Linked DNA regions of Homo sapiens. The protein of the gene in region 2 purifies or fractionates together with the protein of the main gene of each other region. This does not show direct contact. Each region holds a gene or a part of one and is shown on either strand. Other genes may lie near its edges.

Region 1 (3,728 bases), on a different chromosome or scaffold from region 2:
ACTGGCCCTCATGCCAAGGGATTCTGGTGCCCTCCAAGACAGCAGCTGCAGGGAAGCAAATCCCAGATGCTGCAGGCTGGGGCAGTCAGGACAACATGGACTTGGAGACAGCCCCTTCAAAAAGCGTGGCTGTGAAGAAGGGCGGGGGTAGTAGGGGTCGTAGATAGAAAGTAAGAACTGCTGGTTTTGTTTTTTGCTTTTTGGGTTTTTTTGAGATGGAGTCTAACTCTGTTGCCCAGGCTAGAGTGTAGTGGCATGATCTCAGCTCACTGAAACCTCCACCTCCCGGGCTCAAGTGATTTTCCCACCTCAGCCTCCCAAGTAGCTGGGATTACAGGTGCTTGCCACCACATCCAGCTAATTTTTGTATTTTTAGTAGAGACTGGGTTTCACTATGTTGTCCAGACTGGTCTTGAACTCCTGACCTCAGGTGATCTGCCTGCCTTGGCCTCCCAAAGTGCTGGGATTACAGGCATTAGCAGCCACCATGCCTGGCTGAACTGGTGGGTTTTAAAGCTAGGAGAGAGTTGAGTCTGTGTGCAAGATAACAGAAGTTGACAAGTTCTCCATGCCCAAGAAGGTGGGGAAAGGCAAGCTGGATGAAAAAAGATCTTGAACAAGGAAGGAACAGCCCCTTTTCTGTGCTAACAGGAAAAAAGGAGTGGGGCAGGCGTGTCTGTCAATGATTCTTATACTTGAATTCCCATCAAAATCACTTGGAAGGCTTATTAGCACAGAGATTGCTGGGCTTTACCCCCAGAGTTTCTGATTCGGTAGGTCTGAGGTTGGTCTGAGAACCTGCATTTCTAACAAGTTCCCAGGTGATGCTGATGCTACCAGTCCTAGGACCTCACTTTGAGAACCACTGGAAGAAAATGTGTAGGCAGGATGACAGAAACTTAAGCAAGCTTCCAAGTTATGTTTTTTATTTTCTCTTGGAAATTGTGAGGTCATTTGCTGCAAAAGAAAGGGAGCAGTGGTGAAATTGAAGGTATGAGGAGAGTAAAAAAAAAAAAGAAAACCCTCCAGCCAGGCATGGTGGCTCATGCCTGTAACCCTGGCAACTCAGGAGGCAAAGGTGGAAGGATTGCTTGAGACCCAGGAGCTCAAGACCAGCCTGGGCAACAGAGCAAGTCCCTGTCTCTTTAAAAATAAAATAAATAATAAATAATTAACAAGGCGTGGTGGTGCACGCCTGTAGTCCCATCTACTTCACTTGAGCTCATGGGGTTTCAGGCTGCAGTGAGCTCTGATCATGCCACTGCACTCCAGCCTGGGCGACAGAGTGAGACCCAGACTCAAAACAAAAAGCAAACAAACAAATCTCCAAAGCCTACTCACTTGCTGTTGGCATTCCCTTTAGAGCCTATTGAGGCCGGGCTCTCCAAAGATAATTACTTAATCGACCATTAACTGATTCAGCTATTCTATGCTTGTGCTAACCCAACATTAGACTAAAATTTGAACTGTTGGACAGCATGGTCAGGATGGGGATGAGGCAGACAAGGTTTGGGGAAAACTATTCCAGTTCCTTCCATTCTTCACTTAAATTTCTGATTTCTTTTTTTGTTTGTTTGTTTTCTTGGAGACGGAGTCTTGTTCTGTCGCCCAGGCTGGAGTGCAATGGCACTATCTTGGCTCACTGCAACTTCCGCCTCCCAGGTTCAAGCTATACTCCTGCCTCAGCCTCTAGAATAGCTGGGATTACAGGTGTGCGCCACCACACCCGGCTAATTTTTGTATTTTTAGTAGAGACAGGGTTTCACCATGTTGGCCAGATGGTCTTGAACTCCTGACCTCAGGTGATCCACCCACCTCGGCCTCCCAAAGTGCTGGGATTACAGGCATGGGCCACCGTGCCTGGCCAAATTTCTGATTTCTAATTTGCCCTCAAGCTCTGTAACCCTATGAGAATCCGGGCAGATCATTTCTACAAAAGTAGACTCTCCAGGTTCTGGGCAGAAGACCCACCTCCCGCCCCCTCGTCCTCCCCCAACCCCCGGCCCCACTCCCCCTTCCCTCCCTCCCCTCCCCCTCCTCCCCTCCCCCCCCCGTCCTGAGCAGCTTCCTGTTACACACACCCCCACCCACCCACCCCAGTCCTGAGCAGCTTCCGGTTACGGGTACCTCGCAGGCCTTGATGTGCTCACTCTGCCACTCTTCTCGGACCTTATCCAGGGTGCCGATGTGCAGCATGTATGCTTTGTCTGCAACAGAAGGGAGAGACCTGGGTCAGAAACTAGACAGGAAGGTGGCTCGCAGATACACCCACAGGCTGGTCTCAGATGGCAAAAGAAACTCATCCGAGTTGTGCTGAGCTTACAAGGCCCCCAGGACTCTGAGCACTGGGAGTTATTGCATCTCTCACCCTCATCATATTTGGTGAAGTAGGCAAAGGAGGGTATCACTTTCTTTTTAAACATTGGACCTAACATTGAGAAAGAAAGGTTCTAAGGAAGAAGTGAAAGCTGATAAGAAACCTCAGCCAGGGTTTTGTTTGTGTAATTCCACCTCAGTATTTCCCATCGCTTTTCATTTTCAAAATTGTCTGATGAAGGATGCAGAGAAGAGAACTACCTTGAGCCCTAAAGGGGCACCAAGTTACTTTAGTTTCAAATGTAGAGATTAAGATGTACATAACCACCACAGTCATGAGGGATATTTCCTGCAGGATATTCTGGGAATTAGAAGCTTTTGCAAATGCCTGGTTTGGGTCTTAGATTTCAGTGATAACAAGGCCTTGCAGCTTGGCTGTTTCACAGCAGATAAGAGCTACCGGGGCTGAAATGGTCTTTTAGATAGATGCCCCAATACATCAGAGGAAGCACCTGATTGCAAAGCCGCTACCACATGACTCCACCATCTCACTCCCATGTAAGGCAGCAAGATCTAAGCAGACAGAAGCCAGAAACAGTGGCCTCATAGCCTCCTCCCACCTTCCGGGGTTCTAATATACCCTCCCTTCCTCTCTCCTCTTCTTTCCTTTCCTCCCTCCCTTCCTTACTCTCTCCCTTCCTTCCTCCCTTTTTCCCTTCAGATATCTCACTAATCCTGCTGAATATCCATATATTCTCTCTTTAAGGTATATAAAACTCCCTTTCTCAGGGACACATTTAGGATAACGTAAACCCCACCAGCAACCCTCCCCCATCCGTAGGAACTGCCCCCTCACCTGAGTCCTCTACTGCGGTCTTTGAAGTTGCCAGTTTCACAAAAAGCTGTGAAAACAAACAAACAAACAAAAAAAGAGCAAGCATTGGGAATGCTGGACGAGGCTTCCACAGGCAAAACAGATTGAAAAGCAGTAACTATGAAGAGACCAGGTCTAGTGCAAGTCCTGTGTACATTTCCCTCATGAGCAAATCATTCAACGTGCCCTGCAATCTTATCAATCTTGGAAAATATCCATAAAGCATCTTGCCCAGTGTCTTCCTAAAGACACACCCAGCCCTCTGGTTGCAGAAATCTTGTATCTAGATTTTACAAAGTTAAATTTGTAATCCACCCAAGCAAAAGGCAGCCTGACTACAAAGAATACATGAACTGAGTCTTTAAGAAAAATGACAACAACTGGGAAATCCCTCCAACCTCTTATCACCCCATCTCCCTCCCTCATAGCCATGCTTCTGTCGCTCTTCCCCTAACCCCCAAATATGTGGCAGTGGTTTTTCAGGTTCAGAAGACCCCCAATACATGAAGGAAGATATTTCCAGGGGTTTAGGATACAG
Region 2 (3,600 bases):
AATAACTTCCATAAATTGGTAGTGTTCATACACAGCAAATACTGGGAACCTGAATTAAAAAGTCAACAACCAACAATTAAATATTTTTCTATTTTACTTTCATCATGCTTCACACATATACTATTTTATTAATATCTTCATGAAGCATCTATATTTTATTTATTTCCTTATTTACAAACACACATACACTAAAAACTTTACAACCTCATCAGTTTCCTAATAATGTTAGCTTAAGGACAAAGGAATGGAGTGTAACCATTCTGACAAAACCAATATTTGAAACAAGTTCTCTAATTCTACAAACTACCCAAAATCAAATAATTTAGTGAATACAGGGCCAGGAGTGAAAAAAAAATGAAACTGAGAATTCTAAAGGATTAAATTAAAACATGTCTTTGGGGGAACTGGAAAGAGAGAAGTAGGGAGAGATCTGACCATGCACTCGGATTTATTTTAAAGATAAAATAATTGAGATTCCTTCGTAGGCTACAAGAAAATATTGCCTCCATAGCTCTACTAACTCTACAAGTGCACGAGGCTATTGGTTCTAATGACAATAAAAACTGTCATTAGAAAGGAATGAATCTGGCTTCTGAATTCTAGGCAGATAACCAGAATTTACCAAAAACTGTCTGTCTGCTTGAGTGGGGACCATTTTTTTTAATGTTTTATTGTTGTTCTTTCTTTGTTGTGGTGGTGGTTGTTTCTAAACCCTGCTTTAATCTCTTTTAAGGATTCAACGTCCTGCTTTAAAGCTAATGGATGGGCATCATCTTTTAAAAAACAGGGGAGGGGGGAAAAAGGAGTTGCAAGGAAACCAAAGCCCAAAGCATCCTTCATGTCTACTTATATGTTCAGCGCTAGAATAGTTATCCACCATAATGTTCTTAAACCTGCTGATTACACGGGCTCCAGCTAGCCTCCTGAAAAACACATTCATACCAAATTAATATTAGAATTTTGCTTAATAAATTAAAAACTGTAACATAGGAAGGAAAATTTTTTTCTAATTATCAAGAAACTGTTTTCGGAGACATCAGATTTCATAAGAGAAACCAACCACTGTCAAGACTACCACAAGTCCCGTCCAATATGATTGCTTCACAGTGGCAGAGTGGAAGATTAAGAGAACAATATCTATTCACTGAAGCTATCAGCAAGACACACTCATACATTTTCTCAAAGAGGGTGAAAAATATATAGAAGACTGCCGACGAAATCATTCACGTTTTTTAAAAGCTGGACAACATTGTAAGACCCTGTGTCTAAAAATAATAATAATAATAAAGCCGGGTGTGGTGGCGCCCCATCTGTGGTCCCAGCTACTCGGGAGGCTGAGGCGGGAGGATTGCTTGAACCCAGGAGGTGGAGGCTGCAGTAAGCCACTTTCACAACACTGCACTCCGGGCTGGGTGACAGAGCAAGCCCCTGTCTCACCTAAAACCAAACAAACAAAAGTTGTTTAGGAACAGTTAAAGCTTTCTGAATTTCCTCCGACCACGTGTGCCAAAAGAGGAACCTTGAAAATCTGGAGTTACCTTCATATCTATCGCCTCTAGGGCGAGTCGCTAGCCCCTGGGACTTACTGAAGAGCAAAGGAGTGCCACAAAACTCGCCCAGCTCAGTCCCTCGACCTCCACGTTCCGGACGCGGAGTAACTAGCAACATCCACAGGTGTGGCTGGAATCGATCGCAAAGGGGAAAATAAGGAGGCCCAGGAGCTTAAGACAGAAGCTGCGCTGAGGCCCCGTGGCACCAGTGACCACGATGACGATCTACCTCGAAGAGAAAGTCGGGAATTCCTTAAAGATCAGCCCCAACCCACCCGGCCGGCTCACCAAAGCCAAGGAAGCACATCAGTAACAGCACCAAAAGCCGGTGCGCCAGGCGACTGGGGTCGCAGAGGGCCGGCAGGGCTCCAGGGGCGGCCGGGGCACCTCTGTCGGCCTCGTCAGGGCCGCCTGCCAGGAGCGCCCGCGCTTCCTCATCCTCCTCCTCCATTGCGCCCGCAGGAGACGGAGAGGGGAAAGTGGTGACAACTCCAAACCCAGGCAGGAAGCAGCGCCCGTGGAACACTGTCAAGACGGCGGTCACATGACTCCGGGAGCTCACGTGACGCCCCGGCAGGTCACGCAGGGCCACGCCCATGTGAGCGGCCGCGAGCGCTGGGAGGACGGACCCAGCGGTCGATGACAGGGCCTGGCGCGGTTCGCTTTTCCTGGGTGACTGTGTTCGTGGGGCTGAGGCCCTCGAGGTGCCCACTTCCAGCTTTCCACCAATTACTGCACTGTCTTTCCGTTTCCTGCCCCGCTGACGCGTACACCTATTTCAGACTCAGCGCAGCTCCGCGGGGAGAAAAGTGCGGGGCTCCCTCTCGGCTCCACACCAGACTCCGGAGTAGTTCGAACTGCGCTGGGGTCGCCAAGACGCGCGCTGCCCTTCTCCCAGCACTGCCCTCCCCAGCGTCTTTGACCACTCTTAATACCCACAAACTTGATCGGACAATTTCTGGTGTGTCCAGCCATGTGTCACGTACTGGGAATACAAAATAGAATGAGGCAAGCTCCCTGACCTCAAAGATTTCAGAGTTCAGTTGGAGAAATCGACAGAATCTGGTACTTTTAAAACTAAACATGATGAATGAATGTGGTGAGAACAGCGGCAGAAAATGGCACTGAATTCCATAGAAATATCTGGAAAGGTCATTTCAAAAGGGGAGAAAAGGTGCGTAGTTTAGCCAGCTTTCAGGGCAAGGGAGTGAGGGGCGCTGAAGCTCCTTGAAGTTGAAACCCAGGCTAGAATGAGTAAGAATGCGCCAGTCAGGGTGCTTGTTTGAGCGGGTTGGTTGCAGGGCGGGCAGTTACGAGGGATAATAAAGACAAAAGCGTGAAACAGAACTGGGTGTGTATGTGTTTGTGTTGAACGACAGAGAAGGAACTCGAGTAGAAACACTAAACCTGTTTCAAGAAGAGCCATGCAAGGATTTTGAGCACAGCAGCAGGACTGCAAGCTTTGTGTTTTAAAAAACATTCGGTCTGCCAGCACAGCACCATCGTCGCTTTCTGGGAGCCCTCAGGCTTTACTAACAGAATTTTGAGGGCGTCAAAGCTAGAGGCTGAAAACTGTGAGGATTATTAGGAAGATGCTGCAGTCGTAACGATTAGAGATGACGAGGGCCTGTTAGCAATAAAAAGCAGGAATGGCACAGAAGAAAATCAGTAATTATTTAGGAGGTAAAATGGGAATAACTGTAAATAATAGCCTATGCGATCTGAAAGAGAGGAAAGACTTGAGAGTGTCTCCCAGATTTCTAGCTTGGGCCGCCAATAGAGATCAAAATTTAGAGAGAGAAGGAGGTAGGAGAGAGTGTCAAGGATCAGGTGCTGCCTTTGAGATGTCTATACATATCTCCACTTTCACAGTCCATTCTCTCTTCAGCTCCAGTGGAGGAGCTCCCGATCTAATAAAACTGTCTTGCCGAGAGGAGTAATAACTCCATCTTTCCAAATACATTAGTCACTTCTCTGTCATCTTACTCAACTTCTATCAATTGATGGAATTGACAGCCACTCCTTTTTAGCCTCCTTGGCACCATACTTG
Region 3 (3,728 bases), on a different chromosome or scaffold from region 2:
TTTTTTTTTTTTTTTTTTTTTTTTGAGACGGAGTCTCGCTCTGTCGCCCAGGCCGGACTGCGGACTGCAGTGGCGCAATCTCGGCTCGCTGCAAGCCCCGCTTCCCGGGTTCACGCCATTCTCCTGCCTCAGCCTCCCGAGTAGCTGGGACTACAGGCGCCCGCCACCGCGCCCGGCTAATTTTTTGTATTTTTAGTAGAGACGGGGTTTCACCTTGTTAGCCAGGATGGTCTCGATCTCTTGACCTCATGATCCACCCGCCTCGGCCTCCCAAAGTGCTGGGATTACAGGCGTGAGCCACCGTGCCCGGCCGGGTATTTTTTTTTAATTTAAGAATTAAGTACCTTACACTTCTCAAAAGAAGACATTTATGCAGCCAACAAACATGAAAAAAAGCTCATCATCACGGGTCATTACAGAAATGCAAATCAAAACCACAGTGAGAAACCATCTCACGCCAGTTAGAATGGCAATCATTAAGTCAGGAAACAACAGATGCTGGAGAGAATGTAGAGAAATAGGAAGCTTTTACACACTGTTGGTGGGAGTGTAAATTGCAACCATTGTGGAAGACAGTGTGGTGATTCCTCAAGGATCTAGAACCAGAAATACCATTTGACCCAGCAATCCCATTACTGGGTGTATACCCAAAAGATTATAAATCATTTTACTGTAAAGACACATACACACATATGTTTATTGCAGCACTGTTCACAATAGTAAAGACTTGGAACCAACCCAAATGTCCATCAATGATAGACTGGATAAAGAAAATGTGGCATATATACACCATGGAATACTATGCAGCCATAAAAAAGGATGAGTTCATGTCCTTTTCAGGGATATGGATGAAGCTGGAAACCATCATTCTCAGCAAACACACACAGGAACAGAAAACCAAACAGCACATGTTGCCACTCATAAGTGGGAGTTGAACAATGAGAACAGATGGACACAGGGAGGGGAACATCACACACTGGGGCCTTTTGTGGGGTAGGGGGCTAGGGGAGGGATAGCATTAGTAGAAATATCTAATGTAGATGACGGGTTGATGGGTGCAGCAAACCAACATGGCACGTGTATACCTATGTAACAAACCTGCACGTTCTGCACATGTATCCTAGAACTTAAAGTATAAAAAATAAAAAAAAAGTTAGGTGTCTGAAATAGATTTGGGATTAAAATTATTTGTATTTCATCTTTTTGGGGCAACTTAAAAAATGCTATTATCAATATATTCCATTCATGAATCTGAAATTCATGAAATGAAAATAAGAAATCAGTGGTTTCCAATATATCATTTTTAAGGATTCCCTTTGAAGACAAAACATTTAAAATGTATGTTAAAATGGAAAATCATTTCTTAAAAATCAGAAATTACATTTGTCTATTGTCATTTTCAGTGCTATTTAGAAAATATAAATTTAAGCTGACATTTGCCTAGTTATAAATTATGTTTCACCCATAAACCAAAGCAGTTTTGTTGAATCACACTCAGTAAGTTATCACTGAAGAAGTGACTGTACACTACCCTCTAGGCCAATGTTCAGGGGTCCCTGGAAAGGTGAGCAGTCAGGGGCTGCAGGTCTTCTGCTCTCAAATCAAAGCATCTGTTTTGTCACATATCAAGGTTCCTCATAAGATGCTATTTACAAATAAGTATTTCACAAGCTTTAAAAAATTCTGAAAAACCACTGATCAAGGAAACAGAAATCTACCAGAAAAAAAAAAAAAGCCTCACAAACTTATTAATGATTCTTCTCCCTTGAGAAACTGGCTAGGAGGAGCACATTCAGGTAATACATCTTTTCATTTTCGTTTTTCCATATTATTCTACAGAGATAATTTTGGGCACATTCCATCTAATTTCAAATCATACTACCTCATACAAGATTTTAAAAATAGTAATTAAAACACAACCTCTAAGCTGACAAAAATTGTTTGAAAAAAGTTGATGAAAACAAAAGTTTAAAACAAGTTTAAAACAAAAAAACTTGGCTCAAACTTTGTGACTGGGCAACTCCTTTAAAAGTAAACATTCAGAAAAAACATTCAGAAAAAGTTCACCAAGTGTTTGAGTAAGTTTAGAGGGAAAGTAGAGAGGGGTTGGACACGAAGTGGGCATTGAAAAAGATAGAATTGGGGGATAAAAAACATGGGCAAATAATTTTTCTAAGAAAAAAGGAACAGAATGAGCGAAGGGATAAAGGAATGAACTGTTCCCAATGAGAAAGAACTCGATTTGGTCAGGACATTGTTGAAGGGCAATAAGAAATGATTGTGAACTGAGATTGTAGCCAGCTAATGAAAGGTTCTCAACACCAGAGTAAGAACTTGGGCTTTTTCAGTAAAAAAGAAGGAAGTGCAGATATACTTCCTTTTATTGTGCATCACCTTATTGCGTTTTGCAGATATTGTGGTTTTGATGAATTGGTTTCTTTCAATCCTGTGTCCAACAAGTCTATGAGTGCCATTTTTTTCAACAGCATGTTCTCATTTCATGTCTCTGTCGCATTTTGGTAATTTTTGCAATATTTCAAATGTTTCCATTATTATTAAACCTATTTTAATGATCTGTAATCAGTGATCTTTGATGTTTTTGTAAGTATTTGGAGGCAGCATGAACCATACCCATGTAAGGCAGTGAAAGTAATAAAAAAAAGTGTGTGTTCGGACTGCTCTCCTAACCAGCTGTTCCCACATCCCTCTCTCCTTGAGACAAAATAACATTGAAATTAGGCCAATTAATAATCCTACAATAGCCTCTAACTGTTCAAGTAAAAGGAAGAGTCACATATCTCTCACTTTCAATCAAAAGCTAGAAATAATTACACCTAGTAATCAAGCATTTCTCACCAAGGACAATCTTGGAAAGTCAAGATAGGCTGAAAGCTAGGTCTCTTGCACAAGTTGTGAAGGCAAAGGAAAAGTTCTTGAAGGAAATTAAAAGTGCTATTTCCTTACTGTAAGTAATTGAAAAGTGTTCCAGAAAACATGAATGATAAGAAAATCAAACAGCCTTATTGCCGATATGGGAATGTTTTAGTGGTTTCAATAGATCAAACCAGCCACAACATTGCCTTAAGTGAAAGCCTAATCCTGAACAAAGCCCTAACACGCTTCAATTCTATGAAGGCTGAGAGAGATGAGGAAGCTATTGAAGAAAAGTTGGAAGCTACCAAGAGGTTGGTTAATGATGTTTAAGGAGATAAGTTGTTTCCATAATATAAAAGTGCAAGGTGAAGCAGTAAGTGCTGATGGAGAACCTGCAGTAAGTTACCCAGAATATCTAGCTAAGATCATTGATGAAAGTGGTTACAATGAACAATATATTTTCAATGTAGATAAAACAACCTTCTTTTACAAAAAGGTGCCATCTAAAACTTTCATAGCTAAAGAGAAGTCAATGCTTGCCTTTAAAGCTTTAAAGGACAGGCTGACTCTCTTTAGTGGTGAATGTAGCTGGTGACTTTAAGTTGAAGCCAATGCTCATTTGCCATCCTGAAAATCCTAGGACCCTTAAAACTTTTACCTACTCTGCCTGTGTTCAATAAATGGAACAGTCTGGATAATATGACATCTGTTTACAACACGGTTCACTGAATATTTTAAGCCCATTGTTGAGACCTGCTTGGAAAAAAAAATTCCTTTCAAAGTATTACTACTCATTGACAATGTACCTGGTCACCCAACAGCTCTGATGATGTACAAATAGATTAATGTTGTTT

The links.
Region 1: the proteins of MFSD1 (region 2) and PSTPIP2 purify together in Homo sapiens (affinity purification with mass spectrometry; one large-scale study listed by BioGRID and IntAct). This does not show direct contact.
Region 3: the proteins of MFSD1 (region 2) and TMEM106B purify together in Homo sapiens (affinity purification with mass spectrometry; one large-scale study listed by BioGRID and IntAct). This does not show direct contact.

The regions. Positions count from the first base shown.
Region 1 is NC_000018.10:45,995,622-45,999,349, forward strand, and holds part of PSTPIP2 (proline-serine-threonine phosphatase-interacting protein 2), read right to left. Parts: intron 3,219-3,728; coding exon 3,173-3,218; intron 2,208-3,172; coding exon 2,128-2,207; intron 1-2,127. UniProt on the Homo sapiens protein: Binds to F-actin. May be involved in regulation of the actin cytoskeleton.
Region 2 is NC_000003.12:158,800,554-158,804,153, reverse strand, and holds the start of MFSD1 (lysosomal dipeptide transporter MFSD1), read right to left. Parts: upstream 2,101-3,600; 5' UTR 2,002-2,100; coding exon 1,839-2,001; intron 1-1,838. UniProt on the Homo sapiens protein: Lysosomal dipeptide uniporter that selectively exports lysine, arginine or histidine-containing dipeptides with a net positive charge from the lysosome lumen into the cytosol.
Region 3 is NC_000007.14:12,238,676-12,242,403, reverse strand, and holds part of TMEM106B (transmembrane protein 106B), read right to left. Parts: 3' UTR 1-3,728. UniProt on the Homo sapiens protein: In neurons, involved in the transport of late endosomes/lysosomes. May be involved in dendrite morphogenesis and maintenance by regulating lysosomal trafficking.